Homo sapiens: one gene and its partners. The protein of the gene in region 1 interacts with the protein of each later gene in a pairwise test. Each region holds a gene or a part of one and is shown in the gene's direction. Other genes may lie near its edges. The genes, in order: MECOM, CAGE1, ARHGEF37, GOLGA6L1, CCDC180 and GAS7.

Evidence for each region.
Region 2: the proteins of MECOM (region 1) and CAGE1 interact in a two-hybrid assay, tested with the Homo sapiens proteins (one study listed by BioGRID).
Region 3: the proteins of MECOM (region 1) and ARHGEF37 interact in a two-hybrid assay, tested with the Homo sapiens proteins (one study listed by BioGRID).
Region 4: the proteins of MECOM (region 1) and GOLGA6L1 interact in a two-hybrid assay, tested with the Homo sapiens proteins (one study listed by BioGRID).
Region 5: the proteins of MECOM (region 1) and CCDC180 interact in a two-hybrid assay, tested with the Homo sapiens proteins (one study listed by BioGRID).
Region 6: the proteins of MECOM (region 1) and GAS7 interact in a two-hybrid assay, tested with the Homo sapiens proteins (one study listed by BioGRID).

What each region holds. Positions count from the first base shown.
Region 1 is NC_000003.12:169,083,007-169,086,712, reverse strand, and holds the end of MECOM (histone-lysine N-methyltransferase MECOM), read left to right. Parts: intron 1-1,669; coding exon 1,670-1,804; 3' UTR 1,805-3,206; downstream 3,207-3,706.
Region 2 is NC_000006.12:7,365,743-7,369,242, reverse strand, and holds part of CAGE1 (cancer-associated gene 1 protein), read left to right. Parts: intron 1-444; coding exon 445-555; intron 556-3,358; coding exon 3,359-3,439; intron 3,440-3,500.
Region 3 is NC_000005.10:149,587,998-149,591,497, forward strand, and holds part of ARHGEF37 (rho guanine nucleotide exchange factor 37), read left to right. Parts: intron 1-1,528; exon of another isoform or gene 1,529-1,645; intron 1,646-3,500. UniProt on the Homo sapiens protein: May act as a guanine nucleotide exchange factor (GEF).
Region 4 is NC_000015.10:23,126,823-23,130,322, reverse strand, and holds the end of GOLGA6L1 (golgin subfamily A member 6-like protein 1), read left to right. Parts: coding exon 1-853; intron 854-1,509; coding exon 1,510-1,533; 3' UTR 1,534-3,257; downstream 3,258-3,500.
Region 5 is NC_000009.12:97,314,159-97,317,658, forward strand, and holds part of CCDC180 (coiled-coil domain-containing protein 180), read left to right. Parts: intron 1-234; coding exon 235-363; intron 364-459; coding exon 460-570; intron 571-692; coding exon 693-788; intron 789-2,906; coding exon 2,907-3,070; intron 3,071-3,500.
Region 6 is NC_000017.11:9,915,607-9,919,106, reverse strand, and holds part of GAS7 (growth arrest-specific protein 7), read left to right. Parts: intron 1-1,007; coding exon 1,008-1,106; intron 1,107-1,765; coding exon 1,766-1,879; 3' UTR 1,880-3,500. UniProt on the Homo sapiens protein: May play a role in promoting maturation and morphological differentiation of cerebellar neurons.

The sequences.
Region 1 (3,706 bases):
GTAAAAATTAATTTCATGGTAATAGGTACTATTTATGTATTACCTCAGTCAGGCACACTGAGCTAAACACTTTATGTAAGTTAGTGCATGTGATTCCTCCACAACTCTTGGAGGCCAATACTGTTATTACTATCATCTGTTTTATAGGAGGAAAGTAAAGCTTAAAAGGTTAAGCAACTTGCTCAAGATCACACAGCTAGGTGAGTAGAGGCAGGTTTAAAGGCAGGATTAAAATTTAAATTCCAAAATTTTCTTTGTACTCCTTTTTATCTTCCCAAATATCAGAATTTGTTTTAACTCTTTCAGAGTACTCTTTATCTTGTTCTCTAAAAGTAGGTACATAATCAGAATAGATAATTTAGGTTGAATGCTCACTTAACCCATACTTTAAACTCTGCCAAAGATAAGTACTCTATATTATTTATTCTTAATTTCTTAGGATCTATCACAGAGCCTGGCATAGAGTAGATGCTTAAGAAATATTTGTTAAATGGATCATGAGATATTGTAGAAGTCCAAAAGGCAAATTGCATACATAAAAGTCAAATGTGTACATTTAGAGCGATGACCCAGCAAATCAAAAATCAGCCTACAAGGGTAAATTTTCTAACTAAATGCAATGATTACGGAAGAAACCACAGACTGGCCACATGTCTCAGCATGACTCCCAGAGATGAAATTCTGCCTAACAACAGAGGCATTTTGTCTTTGTTTACAGACAGTGGAATGTCTTTGGCAGGACTTTAATGATTCCACTTCAGCAGCATTTTGACAAGCAAGTTTAGCAATGGATGAGACCAACAATAGCAAATCAACAGTGAAAAGTTCACTTACAAGTCAAGACCAAACATTTCATTTGAATATTTTGCTTGGCAGTAAATAGGGGACTCTCTGAACAGTTATTTAAAATTTGACATGATAATAGGGAAGAAAGAGTACTTCCTCACAGAGCACCTCCATGCACCTTCTGCTCAGCAGACACTGGAAAACAAGTTGATTAGAACACTGTTGGGTCTTGTGTTTGGTTTTATTTTTTTGGTAGAGCTGATTTGATCCACCTCAACTTATGGGTGCCAGGACTGAGTATGTCAAGCATGGAGGGAAATTGGAGAAAAGACAATGGATTAAAAGTTGGGCAGAAATACATTTTAGTTATGCTTCTCCCACTATCTATCTAATTGAGTGACTTTGGGCAAGTCACTCAAGCACCTTCAGTGCTTTCGGTTATAAAGTGTAGGAGTCAGGCTGTATCCTCTACTAGGCCACAGCTCTGTCAAGGTAGGTCTATATCTTATTAATATTTGAGGTTTCAGTCATAAGCACACAATAATATTTTTGGTGAATTGAACATATGTAGTGGATGGATGACTGTATTTATAGTTGAACAGGAGACTGACTCATTTTTCTCAATGGAAGCACTATTTGCATTTTAGGTAGGATAGTTCTTTTTGGTTCTGTAGCGTGTGTCACTTTTGGGGCCCCTAGGCACTAAAGGCCAGCAGTAATCCCATGTGGTTTCTACAAAAAATATGCCTTCTTTGCCAAACACACCCATGAAGGATGCCCCTACTCAGGGTCCCATCCCTTTCCATTTACCAACAATATTCTTTGAACTAAAAGTGATGTTTTTCAAATGCCATTTACTGAGTCTCTCTCCTTTTTACCCCAGGCATATGCTATGATGCTGTCACTGTCTGACAAGGAGTCCCTCCATTCTACATCCCACAGTTCTTCCAACGTGTGGCACAGTATGGCCAGGGCTGCGGCGGAATCCAGTGCTATCCAGTCCATAAGCCACGTATGACGTTATCAAGGTTGACCAGAGTGGGACCAAGTCCAACAGTAGCATGGCTCTTTCATATAGGACTATTTACAAGACTGCTGAGCAGAATGCCTTATAAACCTGCAGGGTCACTCATCTAAAGTCTAGTGACCTTAAACTGAATGATTTAAAAAAGAAAAGAAAGAAAAAAGAAACTATTTATTCTCGATATTTTGTTTTGCACAGCAAAGGCAGCTGCTGACTTCTGGAAGATCAATCAATGCGACTTAAAGTGATTCAGTGAAAACAAAAAACTTGGTGGGCTGAAGGCATCTTCCAGTTTACCCCACCTTAGGGTATGGGTGGGTGAGAAGGGCAGTTGAGATGGCAGCATTGATATGAATGAACACTCCATAGAAACTGAATTCTCTTTTGTACAAGATCACCTGACATGATTGGGAACAGTTGCTTTTAATTACAGATTTAATTTTTTTCTTCGTTAAAGTTTTATGTAATTTAACCCTTTGAAGACAGAAGTAGTTGGATGAAATGCACAGTCAATTATTATAGAAACTGATAACAGGGAGTACTTGTTCCCCCTTTTGCCTTCTTAAGTACATTGTTTAAAACTAGGGAAAAAGGGTATGTGTATATTGTAAACTATGGATGTTAACACTCAAAGAGGTTAAGTCAGTGAAGTAACCTATTCATCACCAGTACCGCTGTACCACTAATAAATTGTTTGCCAAATCCTTGTAATAACATCTTAATTTTAGACAATCATGTCACTGTTTTTAATGTTTATTTTTTTGTGTGTGTTGCGTGTATCATGTATTTATTTGTTGGCAAACTATTGTTTGTTGATTAAAATAGCACTGTTCCAGTCAGCCACTACTTTATGACGTCTGAGGCACACCCCTTTCCGAATTTCAAGGACCAAGGTGACCCGACCTGTGTATGAGAGTGCCAAATGGTGTTTGGCTTTTCTTAACATTCCTTTTTGTTTGTTTGTTTTGTTTTCCTTCTTAATGAACTAAATACGAATAGATGCAACTTAGTTTTTGTAATACTGAAATCGATTCAATTGTATAAACGATTATAATTTCTTTCATGGAAGCATGATTCTTCTGATTAAAAACTGTACTCCATATTTTATGCTGGTTGTCTGCAAGCTTGTGCGATGTTATGTTCATGTTAATCCTATTTGTAAAATGAAGTGTTCCCAACCTTATGTTAAAAGAGAGAAGTAAATAACAGACTGTATTCAGTTATTTTGCCCTTTATTGAGGAACCAGATTTGTTTTCTTTTTGTTTGTAATCTCATTTTGAAATAATCAGCAAGTTGAGGTACTTTCTTCAAATGCTTTGTACAATATAAACTGTTATGCCTTTCAGTGCATTACTATGGGAGGAGCAACTAAAAAATAAAGACTTACAAAAAGGAGTATTTTTCCCCACTGTGTGGTATTTTTCCTTCATGCAATTTTACTTTCCCTTTGGGATCCAATGATTTAAAGATATGATGCTGAGATCTTGATGCCCTACAGATATGTGGAATGTAGAGTATGTTTGTTTTGTTTTGAGATAGCATAAATGATAGTTCTTGGGCAACAATGAGTCTCGCTTATTGTTCTGTACTTTCCCCATGTGGTGCAGTCAGGGCTCAAGTGCACCACAACCCAGTCCTGGTATCACTTCACGTTCACAGCATCCACTTAAATTAGGACAAAGAGCGACTTACAGGTTTTCTACGGATTGTATGCCAAAAGGAACTCAGTTTCTTATTTTTGTTTTTCATTATACGAGTAGTGTTAACTGATTCACAAAGGGGGGAAACCTTTGACTTTTCTATGCTCCTTTTAATTTTTTGTCCACATGCAAAATATCCTTTTTTCATTGTTATAACTGCGTGTAAACAAGATTTATTTTTTCTTTCTTTGCTTG
Region 2 (3,500 bases), on another chromosome or scaffold:
TGAGGTCAGGAGTTCGAGACCAGCCTGGCCAACATAGTGAAACCCCATCTCTACTAAAAATACAAAAATTAGCTGGGCATGGTGGCGGGTGCCTATAATCCCATCTACTTGGGAGGCTGAGGCAGGAGAATAGCTTGAACCTGGGGGGAGAGGTTGCAGTGAGCAGAGATCGCGCCACTGCACTCCAGCCTAGGTGAAAGAGCAAAACTCTATCTCAAAAAAAAAAAAAAAATTAAAATAAAAAAAATGAAATCTTTCTGTACTAACCCTTTATTGGATGCCTTCTGATAAGTAATTGAGGAATGGAGTTCAATATGATTTTACCTCTTTTGATTGGCTTACTTATTGAAAGGAGATTTGTTTTTGTTTCATATGCATAGTTTTGGCCTCATTTTAGCTTTAGTAAAAACTTTTTCATCTAGCTTCTGAAACTCTTACCCTTAGGACATCATCAATTCTGATGCTGAACATTTCAAAGAGAGTGAGAAGGTTAGTGATATAATGCTGCAAAAACTGAAGAGCCTCCATCTTAAAAAGAAAACTTTAGATAAAGAGGTATTATATTTATTCTTCTTCTAAAAATTTTATTATTTTTAGTGAAAAAATAGTTAAAAGGTAGTGAAGAAGTAACTCTTAAAGTTGGAATCATTTTAAAAATTATTTTGGGGGACCAGATTAGTTTTACTGTGCCCCTCACTAAAGAGATAAAATGTTCAACATTTGACTTGTTTTATTGTTTGTCTGTATGGGAAAATCTCATTCACCTACAAAAAATTTAGTATGATAAATTTTTTCATTTTTGCACGGCACTACTGATTCCTGAAGGGTTGTTTATTTTGACTTTCCTATAGTGATTTCAAACTTCATCCTTTGGAATAACAGAAACATTGAAAATAATTTTATTTCTCAGGTGGCTGAAGGGTGAGGGCAGAGGTTCTTGGATTGTCTTTAGTTACTCTTTTCTTTAATTTTTTTTTTTTTTTTTTTTTTGAGACAGAGTCTTGCTCTGTTGCTCAGGCTGGAGTGCAGTGGCATGATCTTGGCTCACTGCAGCCTCCGCCTCCCAGGTTCAAGTGATTCTTCTGCCTCAGCCTCCCAAGTAGCTGGGATTACAGGCGTGTGCTGCCACGTCCAGCTAATTTTTTGTATTTTTAGTAGAGACGGGGCTTCACCATGTTGACCAGGCCGAATTTAATGAAATGCAGCCATTGAACTCCTGACCTCAGGTGATCCACCTGCCTTGGCCTCCTAAAGTGTTGGGATTACGGGCGTGAGCCACTGCACCCGGCCTCAAGTACTCTTTTCTAGGTGTGGTAGTATACAGATTGAAGGATAAAATGAAGAGAATTAAATAAGGAAGGTGATAACAGGATGTCAAATTGTACCATTTTGAATCTGAGAGGAATGCAGACATGAAAATTTTATCTGGCTAAAGGAATCAAAACGTATTCAAACCTGGAATCTTGGATCATAACAAATTCATTCTGTAACACTTATCTGAACTGACGTGTTGCGGGTATCCTGAAGAATCTCTCTGCCTCCTAGCCAGCCTGTAGAGGACAGGACCAAAGTATGAGCACAGTCATGCAGAGAAACGGCTGGCCTCTACTCCTCTAAACAGCTTTCAAAAATAAGCCCAACTGAGGTTGTTACAAAAATACAATTTCAGGCTGGGCACAGTTGCTCATGCCTGTAATCCCAGCATTTTGGGAGGCTGAGGGAGGCGGATGGCCTGAGCCCAGGAGTTTGAGACCAGCCTGGGAAACATGGGGAAACTCCGTCTCTACAAAAAATACAAAAATTAGCCAGGCGTGGTGGCACACACCTGTGTCCTAGCTATTCCGGAGGCTGAGGTGCGAGGATCACCTGAGCCCAGAAAGGTCGAAGCTGTGGTGAGGCAAGTCTCAAAACACTGTCTCAAAACAAACAAACAATAACAACAAAAAGCAAAAAAAAAAAAAAAATCCCCCAAATATTTCTTTCAGATATTTATGTTCTTTTGGTTAATTTTTTCTGTGTAATTACTGAAGTATTGACAGGTGATATGATGTCTGCAGTTTGATTCAGTGAAGGGGGATGGAGGGAAGAGGGCAGTGATTGAGGATATAATGACATTGACCATTAGCTGTTAATTATTGAAGCTGAATGATAGTTACGTGGTGTTCATTAAAGTTTTTTCTATTTTAAATATTGGAAAATGTTTGCAATAAAGAATAAAAAATATTTTGCACACCACACTTCACTAATCAGTTTGAATATTGGATATTAAGATTATTATTATACTGAAGGAATAAATAAGAAATGATTATAAATTACGCCCAGATTTGGCTAATTTTTTTCTTTAAGGAAAAATTTTAATAGCCTGACTGTAATAACAATCGTTATGTTAGGATAACTCCTTGGAGACCCCGAGACCACCCCCAGGTTTGATGATTAGCTGAAGGACTGTGAGTCGTCCTCACAGCTATGACTTACCACAGCAAAGGATACAATGCAAAATCAGCCGAGGGAAAGGCACAGGGGCATCGTCTAGAGAAAGCAAAACTCAGGCTTCCAAGAGTCCTCATGGAGTCACACAGGATGCATTTCGTTCCCCCAGCAATGAGTTGCAACCACAGGTGTGGAAGTGTCATCTACCAGCGAGGCTTCTTAGAGACCCAGTGCCCCAGGTTTTTATCAGGAGCTGTTCACATAAGCACCCTCTGCCTAGTGCGTACCAAAATTCCAGACCCCTGGAAGGAAAGTAGATGCCCATGCTTTGGGCAAGTAGGTTGAGCACCATAAGCCATTTACATCAGAGAATGGTGGAAAACTTTCTGCAGTCCAACTTTCCAAATGCCAGTCATGGGGCAGCCTTGCCAGCAGGCCTCTCTAAGCCTAGCAGTCTTGGACCTGCTGTGTGAATTCTTTTCCTCACAAGAGCTATAAAAACATATTTTTTGTATGTTTTTTGAAGACTGTTAGACTGCATGGTTTGATTTTTTTTTTTTTTTTTTTGAGACAGAGTCTTGCTCTGTCGCCCAGGCTGGAGTGCAATGGCGCCATCTCGGCTCACTGCAACCTCCGCCTCCCAGGTTCAAGCAATTCTCCTGCCTGAGTCTCCTGAGTGGCTGGGATTACAGGTGCCAGCCACCATGCCCGGATAATTTTGGTATTTTTAGGAGAGACAGGGTTTCACCATATTAATCAGGCTGGTCTTGAACTCCTGACCTGAGGTGATCCACCCGCCTCAGCATCCCAAAGTGCTGGGATTATAGGCATGAGCCACTACGCCCGGCCCGGTTTGATTATTTTATTATAAATATTAGAGCGTAGTTGTATTTTCTCTCTAAAATACAGAATGTTTTCCTTTTCTTAGCTACTGAAACATAAAGATAGAATCACAACCTTTAGAGAGTTAATTGCTAAGGAAAAAGCATTTCAAGATCATGCTATTAAGGTGAGCTTAATATTTACTACGTACTATCTTTAACATAAAAATATACAATTTCAGGTATTTA
Region 3 (3,500 bases), on another chromosome or scaffold:
GCGATTCTCCTGCCTCAGCCTCCTGAGTAGCTGGGATTACAGGCGTGTGCCACCACTCCTGGTTAATTTTTTTGTATTGTTAGTAGAGACAGGGTTTCACCATGTTGGTCAGGCTGGTCCTGAACTCCTGACCCCGTGATCTGCCCGCCTTGGCCTCCCAAAGTGCTGGGATTACAGGCGTGAGCCACGGTGCCCGGCCTTTTTGTTTGTTTGTTTGTTTGTTTGTTTGTTTGCTTTGAGACAGAATCTTGCTCTGTCAGATTTTCTTTCTTACAGGGTTGTTATAAGATTTCTTAAGATAATCCAAGTAAAATATTTAATAGAGTGCCTGCACTCCATGCCAGGCTGGAGTGCAGTGGCATGATCTCAGCTCACAGCAACCTCTGCCTCCAAGGTTCAAGCAATTTTTGTGTCTCAGCCACCCAAGTAGCTGAGATTACAGGCGTGTGCTACCACGCCTGGCTAAGTTTTCATATTTTTTAGCAGAGATGGGGTTTTGCCATGTTGGCCAGGCTGGTCTCGAACTCCTGGCCTCATGTGATCTGCCCGCCTGACCTTCCAAAGTGCTGGGATTATGGGCATGAGCCACCATGCCCGGCCCCTTTATTCTTCAACAGGGTCCTTTGCTCTCATGATGTCTGAGCTTCACCTTTGACAGCTTTCTATGAACCATTCCTGGAGTCTGAGACCAGATTGTTTTCCTTTTTCCCCCCTTCCTTAAATGTTTAAATGGGCTCCTCCTGGGAGTAAGAAAGGGAAAGAAAAAAAATTAAAAATAAATAAATAAAATGGCTCCCCTTTAAAGCCTTGGGCAGCTAGCTGATGGATCCTCAACTTTCCCTGCCCAGACATTTTATCTTCTGAAAGAACTTTCAAATGATAATTTCACTTTCCCCAGGGATCAGCTTAGTTCCATTTTTCCATTCAGTTCCTCCAATTGGTCAAAACTAGGCCAGGCTCAGTGGCTCATGCCTGTTATCCCAGTGCACTAGGAGGCCAAGATGAGAGGATCACTTGAGGCCAGGAGTTAGAGACCAGCCTCGGAAACAAGTGAGACCCTGTCTCTACAAAAAGTTAGAAAATTAGCTGGGTATGGTGGCACATGTCTGTAGTCCCAGCTATGTGGGAGGATTGCTTGAGCCCAGGATTGCATCACTGTGCTCCAGCCCTGGGTGACAGAGTGAGATCCTGTCTCTTAAAAAAAAAAAAAGTTTTGAATATTGTTTCCTCTTGTTACTTTTCTCTCTTGAAAGGGATTAAATAATCAGGATGCCCATATCATTTTTTAAAAGTTTTATTATGTTTTTAATTGACACATAATGTTTTATTAATTAATTAATTAATTTATAAGACAGGATCTCACTCTGTTGTCCAGGCTGGAGTGCAGTGGCATGATCACTGTTCACTGTAGCCTCAACTTCCAGAGTTCAAGCGATCTTCCCACCTCAGCATTCCAAGTAGCTGGGACTACAGGCATGCACCACCATGCCTGGCTAATTTTTTGTTTTGTTTTGTTTTTGAAACACAGTTTCCCTCTTGTTGCCCAAGCTGGAATGCAGTGGCGAGATCTCAGCTCGCTGCAACCTCTGCCTCCCAGGTTCAAGTGATTCTCCTGCTTCAGCCCCCCGAGTAGCTGGGATTACAGGTACCCGCCATCACGCCTGACTAATTTTTGTATTTTTAGTAGAGACAGGGTTTCACCATGTTTGCCAGGCTGGTCTTGAACTCCTGACCTCAGGTGATCCTCCCGACCTAAGGTGATCCTCCCGTCTTGGCCTCCCAAAGTGCTGGGATTACAGGTGTGAGCCACCATGCCCGGCCGCCTGGCTAATTTAAATTTTTTTTTTTTAATAGAGATGGGGTCTCACTGTGTTTCCCAGGCTGGTCTCCACCTCCTGAGCTCAAGCAATCCTCCCACCTTAGCATCACAAAGTGTTGGGATTACAGGCATGATCCACTGTGCCCAACCTACATCATGTTTTAATTTAAATAGTTCCTCTGCTTTTAGTGGAGTGAAACCTGGAACAAATAACCAGATATTTTAAATACCTTATCCTAATTGTAGACCCACTTTTTCCTGATCTTTGTATTTCTGGAATCCTGCAAAATGCTTGGCATGTAGTAGTTGCTCCAAATACTTGTTGAATGAATGTGGGAATGCCCAAATCCCTCTGTGCCAGTGTGAACAGAAGAGAAGAGAGAGAAAAGAATTAACTCAGTTTTATTCTGTTCTAGAATCAGAAGCAGTAGCTTGCTGCAGAAGTATTAACTGCAGATCATTCAACTTTTTTTTTTTTTTTTTGAGATGGAGTCTCACTCTGTTGCCCAGGCTGGAGTGCAGTGGCACAATCTTGGCTCACAGCAACCTCTGCCTCCCGGGTTCAAGTAATTCACCTACCTCAGCCTCCTGAGTAGCTGGGATTACAGGTGCACACCAACATGCCTGGCTAATTTTTGTATTTTTAGTAGAGACGAGGGTTCACCATGTTGGTCAGGCTGGTCTCGAACTCCTGACCTCGTGATTGGCCCACCTTGGCCTCCCAAAGTGTTGGGATTACAGGTGTGAGCCACCGCGTCTGGCCTGGCTATTTTATTCTTTTTTTTTTTTTTGAGGCAGAATTTCACTCTTCTTGCCCAGGCTGGAGTGCAGTGGTGTGATCTTGGCTCTTGGCTTACTGCAACCTCTGCCTCCCAGGCAGAGAATGGCTGCCACCTCAGACTCCAGAGTAGCTGGGACTCCAGATGTGCACCACCACACCCGGCTAATTTTTTTGTATTTTTTATAGAGATGGGGTTTCACCACGTTGCCCACTGTGGTCTCAAACTCCTGAGCTAAAGTGATCCTCCCGCCTCGTCCTCCCAAAGTTCTGGGATTATAGGTGTGTTCTGTAATTTAATTGAGGTGGTGGCTACACCAATCTACACTTAATAAAATACAATAGAACAATCAAACACAAACATGTATTATACCAATGCCCATTTCCTGGTTTTGATGTTGTGCTATATTTAAATAAGATGTAACCACTGGGGAAACATGAGTGAATAGTACAGAGGACCTCTTTTAGGTCTTTTTTTCTTTTTTGAGACAGAGTCTCTCTCTGATGCCCAGGCTGCAGTGGCACAATCATGGCCATGCCTTGCATGGCTCTCTGTGGTCTCAACCTCCTGGGCTCAAAACAGTCCTCCTGCCTCAGCCTCCTGAGGAGCTAGGACTTTTGTGTTCCATCTCAAAAAAAAAAAAAAAGTTGAATGTTCCAGAGTTAATACTTCTGCAGCAAGCTATTGCTTCTGCCCAGGCTGGTGTCAGACTCCTGAGCTCAGTCAATCCACCCACCTCGGCCTCCCAAAGTTTGAGGATTACAGGCGTGAGCCACCGTGCTCGGCCAGCCTTTGTCTTTTTTTAAGAGATGAGGTCTCTCTCTATTGCCCAGGCTGGAGTGCAGTAGTGCCCTCATAGCTCACTGCAGCCTTGAACTCCTGGACTCAAGTGATCCTCCCTC
Region 4 (3,500 bases), on another chromosome or scaffold:
GAAGATACGGGAGCTGGAAGAGAAGATGCACGAGCAGGAGAAGATACGGGAGCAGGAAGAGAAGAGGCAGGAGGAGGAGAAGATACGCGAGCAGGAGAAGAGGCAGGAGCAGGAGGCGAAGATGTGGAGGCAGGAGGAGAAGATACGGGAGCAGGAAGAGAAGATACGGGAGCAGGAGAAAAAGATGTGGAGGCAGGAGGAGAAGATTCACGAGCAGGAGAAGATACGGGAGGAGGAGAAGAGGCAGGAGCAGGAGGAGATGTGGAGGCAGGAGGAGAAGATAAGGGAGCAGGAGGAGATATGGAGGCAAAAGGAGAAGATGCACGAGCAGGAGAAGATACGGAAGCAGGAGGAGAAGGTGTGGAGGCAGGAGGAGAAGATGCACGACCAGGAGGAGAAGATACGGGAGCAGGAGGAGAAGATGTGGAGGCAGGAGGAGAAGATAAGGGAGCAGGAGGAGAAGATACGGGAGCAGGAGGAGAAGATACGAGAGCAGGAGGAGATGATGCAGGAACAGGAAGAGAAGATGGGGGAGCAGGAAGAGAAGATGCAAGAACAGGAGAAGATGCGGAGGCAGGAGGAGAAGATAAGGGAGCAGGAGGAGAAGATACGGGAGCAGAAGGAGAAGATACGAGAGCAGGAGGAGAAGATATGGGAGCAGGAGGAGAAGATACGAGAGCAGGAGGAGATGATGCAGGAACAGGAAGAGAAGATGTGGGAGCAGGAGGAGAAGATGTGTGAGCAGGAAGAGAAGATGCAAGAACAGGAGGAGAAGATGCGGAGGCAGGAGGAGAAGATGTGGGAGCAGGAAGTGAGGCTGCGGCAGCAGGAGGAGAAGATGCAGGAACACCAGGTGAGGCTGCAGGAGCTGGAGGAGAGGCTGGGGAAGCTGGGGCAGAAGGCCGAGCTCTTGGGGGGAGCAGGCGGAGGTGTGTGCAAACCCTGGAGATCATACAGAACGACCTCACCACAACTTAGCAGATGGTGGTTGGCTCCCTCTGCTTTTCCACCAGTCTGTGGCCTACAGTTTAAATGGTGGGAAGAAGGGTGTGAGATTTGAGGCTGGGGAGGGAGGCATGGGCCTCTAGGCAAGGGAGGCAGTCATTTAGGCCTGGAGGAAGGGGCCAGGGCCAGGGGCCTGGGTAGGCGACAGAGCCCCGCAGTGCCCTCACTACCCTGTTTATGGGCCCAGAATCTGGAAGCCAGCCACTACCTACCCTGACGCCTATCCTGCAGGTGGAGCTGAAGAGCCAAGAGGCTGAGTCTGCAGCAGCAGCGAGACCATTACCTGGGTCACCTGCAGCAGTACGTGGCCGCCTATCAGCAGCTGGCCTCTGAGAAGGAGGCACTGCCCAGCTGCAGCAGCAGGAAGCTCAGGGCGAAGCGGTGGCCGAGATGGCCCACCAATAGTTGCAGGAGACCCGGTTGAGGGAGTTGATGAGGGCGGGGCCCCAAGGGGGATGATCTGGCAACCTCCGTGCCTTCTCACTCTCTTTCCTGGCCCCTTAGGAGCACCTGGAAGCTGCCATCTAATGAGCACATGACAAGAAGGCAAAGACAATAAACATGTAAAAGCCGGCAGCAAGGCCTGGAGAAGAGTAAGCCGCCATGTGACTGTTTAGAATATAGTCTGAGCACAAACCTGAAAAAAAAATTTTATTTATTTTAAATTGTGGCAAAATACTGGCCAGGCATGGTAGCTCACGCCTGTAATCCTAGCAATTTGGGAGGCCGAGGTAAATGGATGACCTGAGGTCAAGAGTTCAAGACCAGCCTGGCCAATACAAAAATTAGCCGGGCATGGTGGCGCATGCCTGTAATCCCAGCTACTTGGGAGGCTGAGGCAGGAGAATCGCTTGAACCTGGGAGGCAGAGGTTGCAGTGAGCTGAGATCGTGCCACTGCACTCAAGCCTGGGTGACAGAGCGAAACTCCGTCTCAAAAAAAAAAGTTTCTTCCTTACATGTATGTTTCTATTAGTTTTCTTCTTGGTCTTTCTCATTTAGTCTTGTGTTGTCTTTTGACATTCATAGTAAACTTTTATCTGCCTCCAGAGAGTATTGACTTTGAGTTTATGGCACACAATTGGAGTAAGGGCAGATCGCCTTCATCTACTTTGGGACTAAGCTGGTTCAAAGCAGGTTTTAGGTTTTCTGATGGCTGGTCTATGTTTTATTCATTTGGACTCCCAGGGGTGGCCCTTCCAGGGTCCCCACCAAGGTCCCATCTCCTTCCTGGGACCCAAATTCTCATTAGGTCATTTCAGCCCTGTGAGAGTGCCAAACATTCAGCTAGGCTCTCCAGCCTCTTAACTACCACTTCATACTCAGTTTCTTAGCCTCTTAGCCCTCTACTGTTGACCAATCACCAAATGTGGGAAAGCACTACAGACTGTCAGGATCACCTCCTAGGCCTGGTCACTCAAGTCCTGACTGAGGTCTCCAATTACCTTCCAACAATTGTTTTTGATTGGGGGCGGGGCACATTTTTATCCAGTTTTTCTAACTGCTCTTGTGGGGAGGCGAATCTGTAACAAGCTCCTCTGCCTTTACTGAAAGTTGAAAACCTTCATCTGTCCTTTTTTTGTTGTTGTTGAGATGGAGTCTTGCGCTGTTGCCCAGGCTCTAGTGCAATGGCACGATCTCTGCTCACTGTAACCTCTGCCTCCTGGGTTCAAGCAATTCTCCTGCCTCAGCTTCCCGCGTAGCGTGTGCCACCATGCCTGGCTAATTTTTTTTTATACCTTTAATAGAGGCAGGATGTCACCATGTTTTCCAGGCTGGTCTCGAGCTCCTGACTCAGGTGATCTACCTGCCTCAGCCTCCCAAAGTGCTGGGATTACAAGTATGAGCCACTGCATCCGGCCCATCTGTCTTTTAAAACATGTTTTTAATTGGAGGTATAATTTCTATTAGTGAAATGCACAGGTCTGGTTTACATTTTGATGAGTTTTAACTCATTTAACATTACTATGGAACCCACCTCCTTTGAAGATACAGAGTATTTCTATCATCCAGAAAGTTCTCCTGTGCTTTCATGCTGTCCCGCACTCCCCCAGCAGCTGATGAACATGCTGAGGACATTGGTACTGGATTCTGGCCGCCCCAAAAGAGCCGCTTTGACCAGGCTTACCCAGCACTAAATCCCTGCCTGCTCTCTCAAAATTTCCATCTTTAAACTGGTTGTACCTATAACCCTCCCTCATCAAGTCAATAGATAAACAAACCCTGAAAAATAAACAACTCTTCCTGGCCCAGCAGCCCACAGCCTAATATTTACTGTATTCCCAGGCTTTCAGAAATGTAACTCGCCTGCCGGTTCACCCTCACTAGGGCGGCAGCTGCACGGGAGCAGCTGGGCTCACCCATTAAGCAAGAAGCCAATAGCTGGACAGTGACACTCAGACCCCAGCCTGGGCGAGCCTGGCTGAAAGCCCCCTTCTTTCCATCCGACTGTGGAGAAAGGGGGCGGAGCACACACAACTCTACTGCCCTCCACATC
Region 5 (3,500 bases), on another chromosome or scaffold:
GTCAGCAGCCAATTCAAAGACTGTGATGAGGATCAAATGAGCCAAGAAGGAGGGCTCAGCGCAGAGCGTGTGGCGTGGTTGTGAGCTGAGTAGTGAGCCTCAACTCGTTAGGTCTAGGCAATGATCATCATTTTTGAGATAGAACCATGCCTGGCACTTCCCCCATGACAGGGAAGGCTCCCTCCTTCCCAGGGGTGCTGATGCCTTGGCCATCATACCCCTGGCCTGTTGCAGGAAATGGAACCTCTCATCGTGGACACAGGGGGACTTTTTTTGAAGAAGCTGACTGAGTCTGATGAAGAAATGAACCGTCTCTTCCTAAAGGTGGAAAATGACACCAACCTTGAGGACTACACCATCCAAGTAGGGGTCCCTTCGTGGCTGGGCCTGCCCCACCCAGGTCCTGCTTCTTCCCTGCCTCCCACCGGCTCCTAGCCTGACCCAAACTTCTCTGCGTAGGCCCTGCTGGAGCTGTGGGATAAGGTGGCCGGGCGGTTACTGCTCCGGAAGCAGGAGATTAAGGAGCTGGATGAGGCCCTGCACTCGCTGGAGTTCTCCCGAACCGATAAAGTAAGTCGGCTGCAGGTGGGCTGTGTGGTGACTGTCACTTGCCGGGTTTATTAGGCATCCTTCTGTTTCCTTTTAGTTCTCCAGGAAGTGAGCCACTAAGTATGGTGCCTTGTCATTTCTAGCTAAAAAGCGTGTTGAAGAAATATGCAGAAGTCATAGAGAAAACTTCCTACCTCATGCGGCCCGAAGTGTACAGGCTGATAAATGAAGAAGCCATGGTGAGTGGTTTTCCTGTGCAGGGATCAGCCCATGGGAGAAGGGGCAGGACCAGGAACCCAGGGCACCCCGAGCCTGGTGTCTGGTGTCTCAGGAATGGTGGGCTTCTCATCTATAACGTTTCTAAGGGGCTCAGGTGGGCCTCTGAGGTAGAGAAGCAGAGTCCTTGCTATTGTAGTCCTTGCTATCTCTCTTTTCAATAGAGATCTTTCTAAAGTACATTTCATATTTCCCTGACATCTTGAACCAGGCACACCTAATATAGGGCTATCGTCTGGAGCGCTGATGATGTTAATGAGCACCTACTAGGTCATGTCTCAGCAACTGTGTGCAATGCAATAGGCGCTACACTATGGAGTCATCGGGGGGCTACGGTGGTCTCAGGGTGGTTTCCACCTTCATGAGTGATCTGCTCTGCCTGCTATGTCTGGCTTTTCTGCCTCTTCTTGCCTCTCTTCCTACCAGTGGTCTGTGCCCATTGCTGAGCCTGCCTCTTGGCTCTGTCCCCACTGCTTTCCCCTGTCCATGCCCCTAGCACCCCTCCCCACAGCTGCTTTCCTTGGGGTGGAAAACACAAAATTCAAGGTTGTTCATGATGTCTCCAAGGTCAGAGCAAAGTCTAACTCCTCTGCTGCTAGAGAGGACTCCTCTTTTGGCTGCCCAAAGGCACACTGTGGGTTTCCTGGTCTTGTGCAGTGAGCTGAGCTTGCTGGAAAAGGGGCCTCCTGGCAGCACAGTAGGCTGAAAAGAGGACAGTGTTCTGAATCACAGATGGGTCCAGCCCATGTCAGCTCCATGGCGACCCAGATAAAGCACAGGCAAGGAGTGAGCACAGGCCTTTTCCACTGCCCAGATGTGGAAGCTTCTGAAATGACTCAGCCCCTGAGCCTGGAGCTTGCTGCGTCGTTAAATGAAGATAATATAGATGTTCCTCCACTTACGATAGGGTCACATCCCAGTATACTCATCATAAGTAGAAAATGTAGAAAGTCAAAAATGCATTTAACACCTTCATAAACCCATCATAAAGTTGAAAAATCATGTCAAGCCATCGTAAGTCGGGGACTGCCTGTAATACCTGTCAGGACTTGTTGGGAGGATAATAAAAGAGGGTCCAGCTGTGGTAGCTGTCTTCTGAGATCAGCGAGGGCTCCTAAGTTGTGCACATTTTATCCAATAGAAGAGTCAAGGATTTCAGTGTCCCGGATGTGTTTCACTGCTTCCCTTCCTTGTGCTTCTACTCATTATTACAACTTGCATTTGCTACTTGTTCTACCTGCATTTTTCTCATTTATTTTCACAAAATCCCTATGCTATAAATAGCATGAACCCCATCTTACGGCTGTGGATCTGTAGGTTGAGGAAATACTTGCCAGTGCCACCCAGCTAGGAAGTACAGCTAAATCAAGCCTCAGGCTCCACTGAAAAGCATTACTGGAATTTCTAGTCTCTGAGCTTGGCAGGGTTCTCACCCACTGCCCCAGCATACTGCCACCTCCCTGGAGGGCTTTGGGAAATGTGTGGAGGCATTTGGGGCCAGGGAGGATGGGGGAAGTTACTCTCATCTAAGCAGGGGCAAGTATGCTAAAGGGCAAAACAGTGCCATGCAATGGAGGATCATCCCACGCCCATGCCAGGGGTGCCCAGGTGAGAAGCCATGGGAGGACTGCTGAAGAATGTTCTAGCTCTGGCCTCATTTTGCCATTGGGTCTCGGTTCTCCTAACAACCATATGTGGCTCGTCCCTGATGGCACGAGCACTCTGCTTTTGGAAGAAATTTATAAAAAAGAGTAAACACTTAGAGCTCACTGAGTGCCTGCCTCCTTTCACCTTCTTTAACAAACCATCTGAAGTGACCTTGGAGCTGAGCTGAAGCTCATGCAGTCAGGGTCTGTGGTTAAGCCTTCAAGGAAGACCCTTGTCCATGGCTACTCAGTGCCAGGAAGCTTCATCGAGTGCCCACTGACCCCTCAGTCCCCTTCAGGCCCTGCAACCACCCCACTTGGCCCTCACCCTGCACCTCCCCTCTCCAGCCTCCCACTGCTCCTCTCTAACTGAGCCTTGCCCTGACCCGAGAGAGACCCTGCCCTGTCTAGAGCCCTGCCCATCTGTGACCACAGGTCATGAACTATGCCCTGCTGGGCAACCGGAAGGCTCTCGCCCAGCTGTTTGTCAACCTGATGGAGTCCACCCTGCAGCAGGAGCTGGACAGCCGCCACCGCTGGCAAGGCTTGGTGGACACCTGGAAGGCTCTCAAGAAGGAGGCCCTGCTGCAGAGTTTCAGGTCAGTGCCGCCCACACAGCTCCTTCTCCAGCCCACCAGGGGGGCTGGCAAAGGGTAGGGGCGGCATTCTCCCTCACTTTTTGCCATTACTTAAAAATGCTGCTGTTTCTCTCTGCTCTTTTTAAAGTTAGAAATAGATAAAGGTATAAAGAATAAATTAAAAATCACCACTAATCTCTCCCCACAGTGAGAAGCACAGCAAATATTTTGGTATATTTTCTCCCAGGCTCTTTTAGATCCATAGAGTATATGCAGTTTCATATTTTATTCATGAACCTTGCTTCATGACCATTCTCTGAGCTCCATACAGCTGGAAAACATTCATCCAATTATCTGTATAATTTCCACTCTTTATTATCACTCATAACCCTGTGGACACTGGGCCTGAACAAGTGGACATCCTTCAGGCAAACACTTCCCAACTCTTGGG
Region 6 (3,500 bases), on another chromosome or scaffold:
CTCCTTATCAGTCAGCACCTGCCTGAGTGGACAGTGAAGTGTGGCTGGTACTTGGGCCAGATGGGACAGGAGGCATCATGCCAGGTGCTCATCGGATCAGCCCACTGCCTAAAGCCACCCCTGTCCATCCAGCACAGGACTAACCAGCTGCCTTCCCCAGGTGTCAGCCCACCAGAGCAGATTAGAGGCCTCCACCAGGGACAGTGACCTAGTTTTCCTCCTGGTTAATCTCCTAATTAAGCCCCCTGCTTTACCCCCCTTTCTGATTAATCACCTGGGCAGTGACCTAGTTGTATGCAGAGTAACAGCCGGATCCCCTAGATTCCAAAGACACAAAACCATCTAGAAACCAGAGGACAAACCCTTTCCACGCTCCCCTTTGACAAAAGCTGTGCCACGTGCAGCCCAGTCTGCCTCCCTGGCCCGGTCTCTATTGCGGCCACAGCACTAGGCATAGGCAGAGGAAGGGAGGCTGCTCAGCAGAGGCCCAGGGACAAGGTCCCAGGAATGTGTGGCATGGAGCTCCCACATGTGCCCCCTTGTTATACCCCATCAGGGCACCAGGGCCAGGGCTGCATGGGTGCATTGCCATGAGTAACAGCCTGATGGACTCTGGTTTAAATCCTGTTCCTCCCATAATTCCGTGTCGCTTTGGGTGAGCTGTGTTGTTGCCTCTCTAGGTGTTAGTTCCCCAGTTCCCTTGCTTGGAGAATGGGGATAATAACAGAAACGATCTCTTAAAATTGTAACGAGGACAGTTAAGGAACGCACGTAAAGCCCTCAGCACTGTGCGTGGCGGAGCAGGATTTCAGGAAGTAAAACAGCCGCTGCTGCTGTCATCAGCTTCACCTTCACCTTAGATATGGGGCACGCTCTTCATCAGACCCCAGAGAGTCAGATGGGACAGAATGTCCACAGCCAGTGACTTGCGTTTTGTGGTCTTGGTGGGGGGACCCCCAAGTGGAGGGGACGTGCTCAGAGTTCTCTGGCCTTTGCTTTCTCGGCAGGAGCTAGAGCGGCTGGAGGTGGAGAGGGTAGAGATGATCCGGCAGCACCTGTGCCAGTACACGCAGCTGCGGCATGAAACAGACATGTTCAACCAAAGCGTGAGTTTCCAGCCCAGCGGGGCTCCCGGGCGACACGGGGCCTGGGGAGAGCCGCCTGGCGCTAGGCCGTGGCAGGTTAAGTGGCTGCTGCAAGTGAATCTGCCCTAAAGGCGGGCAGTGGGCAGGTGCTCTGGCCTGGGGGTGGCCTCGTGGACTGGGCCTCTCAGGATTGTCCTGGACGTCTGTGTGATTCCGACCCTGGCACATGAAGTGGACACACACGTGAGCTGTTACCCTGAGGAGAAAGAAGCTCGTAACAGTTACAGTAGCTGAAGACATTATTAAATTTCTTAAAAAACAAAACCAAAAAAAACAACTTCTAGAAATATTCACAATACCTAAAGCTCAAGTTTTATTTGTCCTGTTCACTGGTGGTAAATGTGGGGTGGAAGGGATAGAGACAGGTTTTAAGGCCCTCCTGGCCTCTCATCCAGGCCTGGGGTCTGCAGGGTGAGAAGCAGGGTCGGGATGCATACTGGGTTCCCCGTTCACAGCCCTCTTCATGTGCTGTCCCTCAGATGGGCCTCCCCCTGGGGCCCCGGAGCCCTCTAGAGAGGCTGCTCTCAGAGACACTAAGGTGAGGACAGCATGTCTCAGAGGAGACCTCCCTGGCTTGGCCGCCGTCTCTAACAGTGTCGCATTTTCTCTGTCTCTTGCAGACAGTCGAGCCCGTGGATCAGCTGCTTCGAAAAGTGGACCCGGCCAAAGACAGGGAGCTGTGGGTCAGAGAGCACAAGACGGGCAACATCCGCCCTGTGGACATGGAGATCTAGATGGGCCTGTGCAGCTTCGGGGGGTCCTGCTGGGGAGGGGGGCTGGGCTCCCACCATGGGGCCCATGCCGAGTGGATGCCCCCCACCCTCTCTCCTGGGCCACTGAGGAGAGGGGAGAGAGCTGGTGATTCCAGAAGGGTGACCCGGACAGCCTAGCTGGGGGCTCCCCCATATTCCCAGGCCCAGAAGACAGACCCACAGCCCTGCCCTTGTCTCTGAGGCTGAAGACCCCCTGACTCCCATGCTGTGCTTGCCGCTCTGAAACAAACAGAGGCTGGAACTTTGTGGTCCTTGCCGAGTTTTGTAGGGGTCACTGTCACATGCTTGTGCCCTGGAAGCCCCAAGGCTCTTCCTCCAGCTGGCTCCCTTGTCTCCAGGGCTTTGGAGGATCAGGGTAGGGAGGGCTCTGTCTCTAAGCCAGGTGTCAGGATCAGAATCATGGGTAGAAGGTGCCATTCAGCTCACAGCCGCACCCAGAATCCTTTGCAGCCCTCCTTCTTTATTTTTTTCCCATTGCATTCTGGGAGTCCACATCTGGCTTTCTCAGCCACTGTTCATCACCAGGGGTTTTAGGAGGAAGGCTTGGCTCCTGTCTTCCCAGACCCACCATGCCTGGAGAGGTCAGGATGGAACTACCTCATTCGGCAAATTAGCCCCAAATTGAGCGCTGAATCGTGTCCCATGAGATCAGGCGCCATCTGTAAAGTCTCCTCTGGAAATGCCAATCCATCCTTCCCCCAGCTGCTTCCTCGGGGAGGCCCCTGCCCCCACCCTGCCAGCCCTTCCCAGTCTCATTAGAGGAAGCTTTCCAAAGTTCTCAGTTATCAAGACCTCATCCAGCTCGTCCAAAGGCTTCAGGGATGGAAACAAACCAGCTCGTCTCAGAGGCCAGCAAGCTGGGGCCTGTCCGCCACGGTGCCCTGTGCACCTTTGGGCTGCCCTGGCCCCCACTCTCCCGGGCCGCCCACCACAGGCTCTTAATGGGGCCGGGTCAGTCCTACATGTGAGATGGGTTAGGGCAAGTCTTTGCCATCCCCCAGATGGCTCTGTCTTCTTGTGTATGGCAGGGCTGGGACTGCTGTCCCTTGTACAGTTTTCTGTCACTGGTGGGCACTGGACAGGCATAGCAGACTCTCTTGTGGCCACACTAGGTTGTCGCCTTTCAGGCAGTGTCCCGCCACCTTTGCTTCCCGCTCCTTCTGGACATTCCAGAGCCCTGCACCAAACCCTTACTTGGTGTCTGCACCTCCTTTCCCTCTCTCCATCTTCCAATCCCTGGAAAAGTCTGGTCTGAGTGTGACTTGGGAAGCTTTCAGTGCTGCTGTTTGGCCCAGCTCATTACTTTCTCCCTTTCTCTACCACAGCAAACACATTCTCCACCATGTCAGTCTAAAGAGTCTAAAGGGGCCGGGAGAAGCATGAGCGAGGGGCAGATTCTAGTCGGGAGCCCATGCCCTGGAAATCCATCTTTCTTCATCTTTCCCATTGACCACTTTGGGTTTGACCTGCACATCTGCAGTGAGGGCAGAATTCAACAAGCACAACTCACTGGTCTTTCAGTCAACGTGCTAGAAACCGATGACTTATTAATCTCTAATTTTTTGGCGCCTCTTTCATTGAA